Linked DNA regions of Homo sapiens. The protein of the gene in region 1 interacts with the protein of each later gene in a biochemical or structural test. Each region holds a gene or a part of one and is shown in the gene's direction. Other genes may lie near its edges.

Region 1 (3,648 bases):
GTACCAAGCATACCTTAAAAATGAGCCCATGGATGTTGCAGTGAGCCGAGATCACGCCACTGCACTCCAGCCTGGGTGACAGAGCGAGACTTCGTCTCACAAAAAAAAAAAAAAAAAAAAAGAGCCTCAAGGCCTGTGCAGTTGGTCAGCGGTGGAGTCAGGTATGGGGCACACCTGATTCTGCCCTGGCTCATCCCCTGCCTTCAGAGGACAGCAAGGGCGCAGCGCACGTGGGGGCTGGCCCTGAGGTGTGGCGTTCTCTGGGCTGGGCTAGGGCAGTTCTGAGGGAGGGGCGTGTTCTGTCCCATTCCTCCAGGAGACACAGTGCCTGGGCCATCTGGCCACTTGCATGAGGGAACGTCTGTCTGCATCCCCTGGGGGCCGCTGTCCCCATCCCTTGACTGCCGGATGCACCTCGGATGCTGGGGCTCTGGTCTCCGATCCTTCTTGGACTTTGTGGGGACAGCAACGGAGGAGGATGACCCCAAGGATGGGCCGGGCGCGAGGCTTGCAGCAGTGCCCAGGTTTTGCAGATAAAAATACAGGACACCCCTGCAGCATTTGGGACGTTGTCACATGGAGACCCGGCTCCTGGAGCAGGGGTGCTGGGGGCTTTCCTGACCACTGTTGCTGTTTCTCTTGACTCTGTTCCCAAAAGGGAAAAGACAAAGTTCCTCTCTGTGCTCCCTGGTCTCCTGTCTCTGACCATGGCAGACCTGGCTGTGGGTGAGCTCAGGAGAGTGGGCTGTGCCCTGGAGGGTCCCGGACAGGCAGGGACCACGGGCACCGCCCTGCCGCACAGCTCTTGTTGCTCAATGATCTTGGGGGTTGTGTCTGTTCTCCCCCAATTCTTCTGTGGCCCCATCCCCTATTTGTTAAAACTTACGTGTAACCCCAAAATTCACACTTATGTCACTTTCCCAGTCATTTGCGGGCACGCACAGGCTGCTAAAAGCCCAAGTTGCGTGGTGCTTGGGTGCCTGCTGGGGTGAGCGAGGCACCCTGCCCTCTGCCACTGCTCCCATGTTGGAAGCAAATTGTCCTTTCTCCATCTACTGAGGGCCATGCTTCTTGCATTTGGGGGCTCTTGGTGATTTTGCTTTTTAGATGCCCCTGGGGGAGGTGCCGCAGTGCTGTTGAGTGTCCCTGGACACAGGCAGGCTGGGATGGGTCCCATGGAGAGAACGTGTGTTGGACAGGCTCTGCCCCACGTGAGTTCAGTGTCGGAGAACAATAATAATTATAAAGTTCTTTGACAGAAACGTAAAATAAGGCTGTTGCGTATTGATTGGTTGCTGAAAATGTTGTGACCAGAGGCTCGTAGGAACCTGACCCTGTATTTCCTGTAGGAACAGAGGTACGGTGTTCAGTATTAGTGGTGACTTTATGGAACGTAATTACTGCAAACAATGAGAATTGACTCTGGGTGCGTGTATATTTTTTTAACTTAAAGTAAGGTTTAGGCCGGGCATGGTGGCTCACACCTGTAATCCCAACACTTTGGGAGGCTGAGGTGGGCAGATCACTTGAGCTCAGGAGTTTGAGACCAACCTGACCACACAGCAAAACCCCATCTCTACTAAAAATACAAAAAAAGCCAGGCGTGGTGGTGCGTGCCTGTAATCCTAGCTACTTGGGAGGCCGAGGCATGAGAATCACTTGCGTGCAGGACGCAGAGGTTGCAGTGAGTGGAGATCGCACCACTGTACCCCAGCCTGGGCAACAGAGTGAGACTCTCTCAAAAAAAAAAAAAAAAAAAGTTAGGTTTATTGAGATACACGTTTCACATGGCAAACCCACTTATGTGTAGGGGCCTGTGGTTTTCCACTCATGCACAGCTGTGTGGTCGCTGCAGCTCTTCCACACCTGACATGCTTCTCTTGTGACCTTCTGTAGTCAGCCCCCTCTTCTCCCCCAGCTCCCAGCAACACTGACCTATTTTCTGTTCCTGCCGTTTTGCCTTGTCCAGAATGTGGTAGAAGTGGAATTGCACAGCATGTGGGCTTTTGAGTCTGGCGTCTTTCTTTTTTTTTGAGATAAGGTCTCAGTCTGTCACCCAGGTTGGAGTGCAGTGGTACAGCCATGACTCACTGCAGCCTCCACCTCCCAGGCTCAAGTGATCCTTCCACCTCAGCCTCCTGAACAGCCGGGACCACAGGTGTGCACCACCACACCCAGCTAAGTTTTTCGTTATGTTGTCTAGGCTGGTCTCGAACTCCTGGGCTCAAGCGATCCTCCCACTTCGGACTCCCATAGTGCTGAGGTAACAGGAGTGAGCCACCATGCCCAGCCTTATAGTAATTCTTGAAATCAAGTAGTAGGAATCCTTGAACTTTGTTCCTCATTTTCAAAATTGTTTAGCCTGTTCTGGTTACTTGGCTTTCCCTTACAGAGTTTAGAATTGGCTTGTTAATTTCTACAGAAACCAAAAAGAAGTGTTTCTTTTTTTTTTTTCTTTTTTTGAGACAACATCTTGCTCTGTTGCCCAGGCTGGAGTGCAGTGGTATGATCTTGGCTCACTGTATGTAGCCTCAGTCTCTTGGGCTCAAGTGATCCTCCCCACTTCAGCCTCCCGAGTAGCTAGGACTACAGGCATACGCCACCATGCCTGGCTAGTTTTATTTATTTTTGTAGAGATGGGGTCTCACTATGTTGCCCACACTAGTCTCAAACCCCTGGCCTCAAGTGATCCTCCTGCCTTGACTCCCAAAATGCTGGGATTACAGGCATGAGCCATTGTGCCCAGCCTCACCTTGCACTTTTATGTGGTAGAAATGGCTTCTTTCCTTGAACTTCATGGGCCAACTTCTGCTAGCTTCAGATTTTTCTTCTGCAGCCTCCTCACCTCCCTCAGCCTTCGTAGAACTGAAGGGAGTTAGGGCCTCGCTCAGGCTGGGGCTCTGGCTTCGGGGAATGTGTCCGCTTTGATTTCCCATCCCGGCACTTCAGCTTTCTCTCTATCAGTACTAAGGCCGTTCAGCTGTCTTATCAGGCTTGTGTTCACTGGAGCAGCACTTTTTGTTTTTTGGAGATGAAGTCTTGCTCTGTCGCCCAGGCTGGAGTGCGGTGGCACGATCTCGGCTCGCTGCAACCTCCGCCTCCCGGGTTCAAGCGATTCTCCTGCCTCAGCCTCCCAAGTGGCTGGGACTACAGGCACCCACCACCACACCCGGCTAATTTTTTTTTTTTTTTTTGAGACAGAGTCTCCCTCTGTCACCCAGGCTGGAGTGCAGTGGCACGATCTCGGCTCACTGCAAGCTCCGCCTCCCAGGTTCACGCCATTCTCTTGCCTCAGCCTCCCGAGTAGCTGGGACTACAGGTGCCCGCCACTATGCCCGGCTAATTTTTTGTATTTTTTTAGTAGAGACGGGGTTTCACCATGTTAGCCAGGATGGCCTCAATCTCCTGACCTTGTGATCCACCTGCCTCAGCCTCCCGAAGTGCTGGGATTACAGACGTGAGCCACTGCGCCCGGCCTTTTTTTTTTTTTTTTTTTTTGGTGACCAAGTCTCGCTCTGTCATTCAGGCTGGAGTGCAGTGGTGCGATCTTGGCTCACTGCCACCTCCAGCTCTCGGGTTCAAGTGATTCTCCCACCTCAGCCTCCCGAGTAGCTGGGATTACAGGCACACACCACCATGCCTGGCTAA
Region 2 (3,748 bases), on another chromosome or scaffold:
AACCAATCAGACATGGGCCCCACCCCCTCCAGAGAGCAGCTGTGGGAAGGCTGTGCCCACTGGACCCTGGCAGAGAGCAGGAAGGGCTGGAGGACCCGTATGCCCCTGGGCAGCTCTCTTGGCCTCCTGGTCTCAGTGTTCCTGTCTGTCCATGGCAGTGGGGAGGGACGGCGCATATCCAGTGTTGTACCCCTGCCTCTCCTACCCACCCGCCACTCTCCTGTACCAGGCTCTGAGGGTAAGCCCCCACTTCTCCCCTTCCTTGGAGCCAGGGAATAGGTCACAGAAGTTGGCACGAGATGGGGTCTTAGGAGCTCCCAGCAGGCTGGCGGGTGGTGTGACAGTCCTGCTGTGCGATGATCTCATCATCAGGTGGGAGGGGTCCTTCCTGTCTGCCCCTGGGCCCACTGACGCCCGTTTCTTATGAGTACGGGGGATGGGGGAGCAGGTAGCAAGTGTAGACCGAGAACATTAAAAGGAGATGATACAACTCAGCTGGGAGTGGGGGACAGCCCCCCAATGCGTGACCTTGAGCAAGTCCCCGAGCCTCCGTGAAGTGGGGCTCTTGAACACACCCCAGAGGGCAACAGTTCTCCATTTCCAGGCCTGAGCTGACAGCACCGCGCCCACAAACCTCGCTGACCTCTGACTGCTCCGAGAGGGGGCTGTGGCCCGGGCGCTGTGGGCAACTCCTTCGTGGGTCTCCTGCGGGGCGCCCTGGAGAGGCTCGGTGAGGAAAGAGGCCCCAAGTGGCAACGCCCAGGGCTGCCGGCTCCCGCGCCCCCTCCTCGATTTCCAGCCTGGTCTGAGCTCACAGGGGAAGACCCGAGATCCTGCTCTCAGTTGGCGGACCCCACCGCAGTCTGGGACGGAAGCCCCCTCCCTGGCCCGAATCCGCTCCACACCCCAAGTCTGGCCCAAGAGAAACGTGGGCGTCAAGGCCTCGGGCTTCCTGAGCCGGTTGTCACTGCCCCCACCGCGCACGTGGAGCGTGCGGCAGAGCCCAGGGGTCTAGGGAGGGACCAAGGGCTGGGGGCGGAGTTACAGTGCGGGGGCGGAGCCTCGGCGTCTCAGGACCCAACCAGGTCGGGTCAGGTTTGGAGGCGGAGCTGGCGCCGAGAGGCGGGGCGCAGGATGCGGTGCCGCGGGGCAGCAGAACAGAACCGAATAGGTCTCAGACTCCCAGCGCGGCCTGGGGACATGACCTCCGGGCCAAAGAGGAGTGGGGGAGGCTAGAGGTCTCCCCGGGGCGCGGGCGGGGCCGAACCAGGAAGGGGCGGGGCATCGAGCGGGGCGGGGACAGTGCCTTGAAGGCCCAGACGGACAGGGGCGGGGCCGCAGCGCTGGGGTCGGAGCCAGCGCCGTAAAGAGCGAGGCGGGCGGGGGCGCGGTCGCGGCTCTGGGGGCGGAGCCAGAGCAACGAAGAGCCGGGCTGGCGGGGGCGTGGCCGCGGCGCTGGGGGCGGAGCCGGAGAGGTGCAGGGCCCGGCAGGAGGCACGGGGCGGGGCCGGAGCGCCGGGGGCGGGGCGGGAGGTGCGGCGGCCGACGACGCTCAGGCCCGGCCCCGCCCCGTGCCTCCAGCCCGCCAGGAGCGCCCTCGCAGTGGCCGCCTGCTCCGCCGCTCGCCGCCCGCGGGTTCCATTGAGAAAAGCCGAGCGGCCGCGGCGGCGGCGGCGAGTGCGCGGGAGCGGAGGAGCCGGCACCCGCCCGTCGGGCAGTCCGCGCGCCCGCAACGCAGGACCGTGGCCTCTCGGGCCTCCGCGGCAGCTCCAGCGGCTCCGGGGCTGGGCGCGCGGGCTGGGGGCGCGGGCCGGGGCGGCCGCGGAGACCGGGGGCCGGGGGCATGAGCGGCCCCGCGGCCCCGCCGCGCCCCCGCCGCCCGCCGCCGCCCGCCCGGGGCTAGAGGCGGCCGCCGGGAGGGCGCGCGGCGCCGGAGACATGTCCAGGCGGAAACAGAGCAACCCCCGGCAGATCAAGCGTGAGTCAAACTTTGCCCGCGGTCCCCTCCGCGCGCCCGACCCCCGCCGGAGCCCAGCCGCCAGCGCCGCCCCCGCCCGTCCCCGCTCTGCCCTGGGCGCCGGCGACCTTCACCCCGCGCCGCGCCCCCCGCGCTGTGCCAAGCGCGCCGTAATCTAATCTCCGCCGGCGGCCTGGGCCCCCGCGTCTCGGCTTGGGCACCGGGGGGTTCAGCCCAGGAGGGGGCCGCCCGGAGGCCGGGAGGAGGGTGTTTGGGGGCGCGGCCCGGGCAGCTCGGCCCCTCGCGGCCTGCCCCTCCCCCGCATCTGCGAGATGGTGCGGCGATAGGGCGGCCCCGATCTGGGCTCAGATAAAGTTTAAAATATTACATTCTGCAAGTCCCGTCCTGATAAGATCGTTCTGTCGGGACGGGCTGAAATTGTGATCTTATCTCGCGCGGTTGACTCTCCCAGGCTTTGTATCTAGAAGCGAAGAGAGAGACCTGGGAGGCAGAGGGGACACCCGGGGCCGCGGAGATGCCTGGCCAAGTGGCAGGCACCGGCCCGCGCCCACCCCCACCGGTGCCGTCGCAGAGCCGCAGGACAGGGGAGGGGGTAGCGCGCAGCTGCCGCAGCCTAGGCACTTGGCTCCAGCCCCCCAGACACCCCCACCCCGTGCCCTAGCGCTGAAGTCCTGAACCCAGGCCCCGCCAGCCTGGTGACACCTCCTGGACCCTGCAAGTGTCCCAGCCAAGGCGGCATGGGCAACAAATGGTGCCCTCGGATGCCCGCGGGCACCCCCTGGCATCCCAATGGGCTGCTCTGAGTCAGAGAAGGGCCTCCCAGGACGCAGCCCCGGGCCGGGGTCGCCCCTGCACGCCACTAAGTTTCTCGCTGGTCCGGCTCCCTGCCCGGTCAGAGGCTGCTGCCCCGCCGCCACATTGCCAGTGCCCCCGCGATGAGAACTAAGCTGTCGGGGCCACTGTCTGGCCTGGGCCTCTGGGCTGTGCCAGGAGGGAGCAAGAGCACAGGAAGCTACCCTCCCCACCCTATGCCAATAATAACTTTGCGCCTCACAGTTAGGGCCCAGACGCAGGTCTTCCTCCCCGGGGCGCCTCCCCGGAGCCTGACGGGCAGGTCGTCTGAGCCCTGCCAGGAGGCCACGACGGAAACCCGCCCGCTGCCCAGCCGTAGGCGCCCGGGCACTACCTCCTTTGTCCACACGACCACTGCCACCAGGACCCCTTGTGCGGGGCCTGTGGGAGCTTCCCTACTCAGGAGGTCTCCCGAGGCGGGGGTCACAGGCATGAACCGGTTCCCGTAACCCAACTCCCTCAGCGCAAACGGGACCTGTTTTCCGAAAGTCGCCTTCTATCGTGTCAACTCAAGTATTAAAAGCCACCCACAGGTCCCGATCCGCGCTTGTGCTCTGGTTTCTTTTTCCTTCCTTCCCTGAGCGCCTATGTTCGGTTCTGGGGTGTGTGTGTGTGTGTGTGTGTGTGTGTGTGTGTGTGTGTGGTGTTTCACTGTGATGAGAAATGCAGATAGCTCGGACAGGGAGATCGCAGGTTGGAAACCGATCTCCAGCGCTGATAAGGCCGCCAGCGCCAGCGAGAGCCCGTAGCCCAGCCCAGCGGGGCGGGCAGAGCGCGCGCACTTTGGGAACTGGGACCGCGGCGGGTGCACGGTGAGCCACCGCGGCCCATCCTCGTTGCGGCCCGGGACCGGGGCAGAGAAAGGGCCCGGACGAGGAAGGCAGGGCCGCGGACCCTCCCTGTCGCTCGCGGCCCGGG
Region 3 (3,648 bases), on another chromosome or scaffold:
CCTGCTTAGTGATCCCTTAGCAGTCACTGTGTTCACAATGTGATGGCCTTGAGTTACCAAAGATTGCTGCTTATGGTACTCAGTTTAAGAAGGCAGGTTTATGTGTAGCATTTCAGAAAGACTTTTATTTAGCATGGTTAATTTTTTTGTTAATTTCATATTTTGAAGTAATTTCAAACTTAAATCAGTTGGGTCTCAAAAAAAAATCAGTTGGAATAATACGAAGAACTCTCCTATATCCTTTATCTAAGTTATTAACATTTTTCAGCTTTTGCTTTATCATTCACACACACACCCATCTATGCATACATTTTTTTTTTGGTAGGAATGCCACAGAGGTGATACCGTATCTTACTCAGTGCATCTATCAGGAGACACATGCTGGTTTGACCTATTACAAGTTGATTTTTAAGATCACTTGGTTAAGGTGGAGTCTGCCAGGTTTCTCAATGCTAAGGTTAATATTTTTACCTTTGTAATTAATTTGTGCTTTCAAGGAATATGCTTTGAGACTGTGTAAATATCCTGTTTCTCATCAAACTTTTATCCACTAGTTTTAATATCTATTGATGATTCTTTCCTCAGTCAGTTATTACTACAATGGTTGCCAAATGGTGATTAACATTCTATTGTAAGGAAGGTTTTCCTTCTCTCTTATTTATTTATTAATTTATTTTTAGATCAGTGTGGACTAATGGATTCTTTTTTTTTCCATGACTGTAATCCATTAGTAGGGGTATTATGATGCTCGTATTGTCTTAGATTTGCCTCATGGGTGGGAGCTCCTTCAAGCTGGCTCCTTTGTCCCTCTGGTATGTCCCCACCATTCTTTGAGCACCTCCTTTCTTCTTGGCATACTAATATATGCTGAGCTCAATTTGTATTCTGTGCCAGCCCTGGAATCAGCCATTTCTTCAAGGAACCCTGGAGAATGGTATTTAGGAACTAGGATCCGGGTTCTCAGAGTGTTCATTGCTGCTATTATGTCATTGCTTTCGTAGCCAATAGTATCAGGAAATAGATGTATGTATGTGTGTGTATGTGTTTGTTGTGTACATACATATACACATACATACGTGCATATATATGCACAACAAATTGCACAGATACACCTGTCTCTATGTCTGTGAAAACCATGAATTTGGCTTCCAGCAAAGGCAGATTAACATTTACCCTTCCATGTGAAACAATGAAAACAATGACAAAACATATGAAGCAATGGTTTTCAGACACCAAAGGGCAGTGATCTCTTGAGAGATGGGAAACAAATGAACTGAGCTCTCCAGTTGCCCTGCCCTACTGCCTTGAGAGAATTTTCGTGCTGTAACAGAAAGAGGGAGAACCCAGATGGGAGTCCAGGCAGACCCTCTGTTGAAAAGGCAGAGCTGAGCATCAGGGGAGGCCAGGGTGGCTGGCATTCACATGCAAGAGACGATAGCGGAGACAGCTCTGCACAGGGAGAGAACCCCACAGGTCTGCAGAGTCTCCACTGGCACTCAGCTGAATACTGACCAGCACATTGTGCAAGAAAACTACTTAAGGTCAGTGAAAAGGCCTTTCCTCTTTAACTTTTCGAATTAGAGGAAACATGTCTGGTGCTCACCCATGGCCAGGGATAGTGCCTGTTCCCACCAGCTAAGACTGGAAAAATATTTCATGGGGCATTGGGTATGATACAGAGTAGGGGGTCTTGCCTCTGTAGTAGGGAATGATCAGCCTTAGAGTGAGCACTGCTTCAGCCCTACCTGAGTGTTTACAGGAATATACAAATACCCAACATCCAACAAGATGAAATTCACAATGTCTGGAACCCAATAAAAAATTACTGGCTGGGTGTGGTGGCTCAGCCTGTAATCCCAGTGCTTTGAGAGGCTGAGGTGGGTTGATTGCTTGAGCCTAGGAGTTCAAAACCAGCCTGGGCAACATAGTGAGATCCTATCTCTACAAAAAATAAAAAAAAAAATAGCCGGGTGTGGTAGCATACACCTGTGGTCCCAGCTACTTGCGAGGCTGAGCTGGGAGGATTGCTCGAGCCTGGGAGGTTGAGGCTGTGGTGAGCTGTGATCATGCCACTGCACTCCAGCCTGGGCAGCAGAGCGAGACCCCATGTCAAAAAATAATAAAATGTATAACCCAATTTTTTAAATGGACAAATAATTTGAACAGACTTCACCAAGAAAGATATGTAGATGGCAAATAAATATATGAAACTTGTTAATATTATTAGTTATTAGGGAAATGCCAATTAGAACCATAACGAGATACCACTATACACCCTCTAGAATGGCTAAAATGAAAGAAGACTGACCATACTAAGTGTTGGTAAAGATGTGAAGCAGTTGGGTCTCATACACGCCTGGTGGGAATGTAAAATGGCACAATCACTTTGGAAAACAGTTTGGCAGTTGCATGCGCTTTCCTTGTGATATAGCTTTTTCAGTCCTGGGTGTGTATTTGCCCAAGAGAAATGGAAAAATATGTCCATACGAAGGCTTGTACATGAATATTCGTAGCAGCTTTATTAGTAATAGCCAAAAATGTAGAAATCAAATGTCTACCAACAAGTAAATAGTTAAACTAACCATGGCATATCCATATGATCAAATACTAGTCGACAGGTGGGGCTTGGCTCACGCCTGTAATCCCAGCACTTTGGGAGGCCGAGGTGGGTGAATCACCTGAGGTCAGGAGTTCGAGACCAACCTGGACAACATGGTGAAACTCCATCTCTACAAAAATACAAAAATTAGGCATGATGGTGGGTGTCTGGAATCCCAGCTACTTGGGAAGCTGAGCGGGAGAATCGCTTGAACCTGGGAAGTGGAGGTTGCAGTGAGCCGAGATCACACCATTGTACTCCTGCCTGTGCGACAGAGCAAGACTCCGTCTCAAAAAATATATATACTAATCAACAATAAAAGGAAGTAGAGTATTGATACATGCTACAGCATGGATGACTTTCGGACTAGTAAGATTAGTACATACTCTGATGCCGTTTGCATAAAATTCTAGAAAACACACAGTCATGACAGAAATTGGATTGGTTGTCTGGGCATGGGGTATTTGACGGTGGGATTACAAAGGGACATGAGTTTTGCAGGTGACGGCTATGTTCATTGTCTTGATTGTAGTGATAGTTTCATGGTATGTACATAATGTCACAACTTACCAAATACTGTACTTTAGCAGTTATTGCATATCAGTTACACTCTAATAAGCTCCAAAAAGCAAAATAAGATGAGGGAATACTGTTGTCTCCAATTTCATTTCAGCACCCTAGGGCCCTTTCCATGTTTGTAGCTTCCTTCTTCAAGACCTTCATTCACAACGTACTGAGTTACTTGTCAATCCTAGGATACATGGTAGCTTTTTACAATTTCTGACCTGAACTATGGCAAGAAACAGTTATACTAACTAGAATTCAATATTTGTTTTTATTTATACTAACTAAAGTTCAATATTTGTTTTTATTTCTTTTTGTCTTTAGTCTAAGTTTTTGGTCAAAACACTACTTGAGTCAAAAATAACTTAGTTCTTTTTTCTCACCCTTCATCATATTTTCAGTGTGTGCTATCAGTTTAAAATACAGTTAGGTTAATTTATTTGTTTGTATTCCACTTTAGGGTTTCCTCCCATCCTTGTTGACTC

Evidence for each region.
Region 2: the proteins of MTA1 (region 1) and ZFPM1 are reported together in a solved structure, tested with the Homo sapiens proteins (one study listed by BioGRID).
Region 3: the proteins of MTA1 (region 1) and ERCC6 form a complex in vitro, tested with the Homo sapiens proteins (one large-scale study listed by BioGRID).

Annotation. Positions count from the first base shown.
Region 1 is NC_000014.9:105,426,276-105,429,923, forward strand, and holds part of MTA1 (metastasis-associated protein MTA1), read left to right. Parts: intron 1-3,648. UniProt on the Homo sapiens protein: Transcriptional coregulator which can act as both a transcriptional corepressor and coactivator. Acts as a component of the histone deacetylase NuRD complex which participates in the remodeling of chromatin.
Region 2 is NC_000016.10:88,451,701-88,455,448, forward strand, and holds the start of ZFPM1 (zinc finger protein ZFPM1), read left to right. Parts: upstream 1-1,579; 5' UTR 1,580-1,938; coding exon 1,939-1,978; intron 1,979-3,748. UniProt on the Homo sapiens protein: Transcription regulator that plays an essential role in erythroid and megakaryocytic cell differentiation. Essential cofactor that acts via the formation of a heterodimer with transcription factors of the GATA family GATA1, GATA2 and GATA3.
Region 3 is NC_000010.11:49,466,047-49,469,694, reverse strand, and holds part of ERCC6 (DNA excision repair protein ERCC-6), read left to right. Parts: intron 1-3,648. UniProt on the Homo sapiens protein: Involved in repair of DNA damage following UV irradiation, acting either in the absence of ERCC6 or synergistically with ERCC6. Involved in the regulation of gene expression.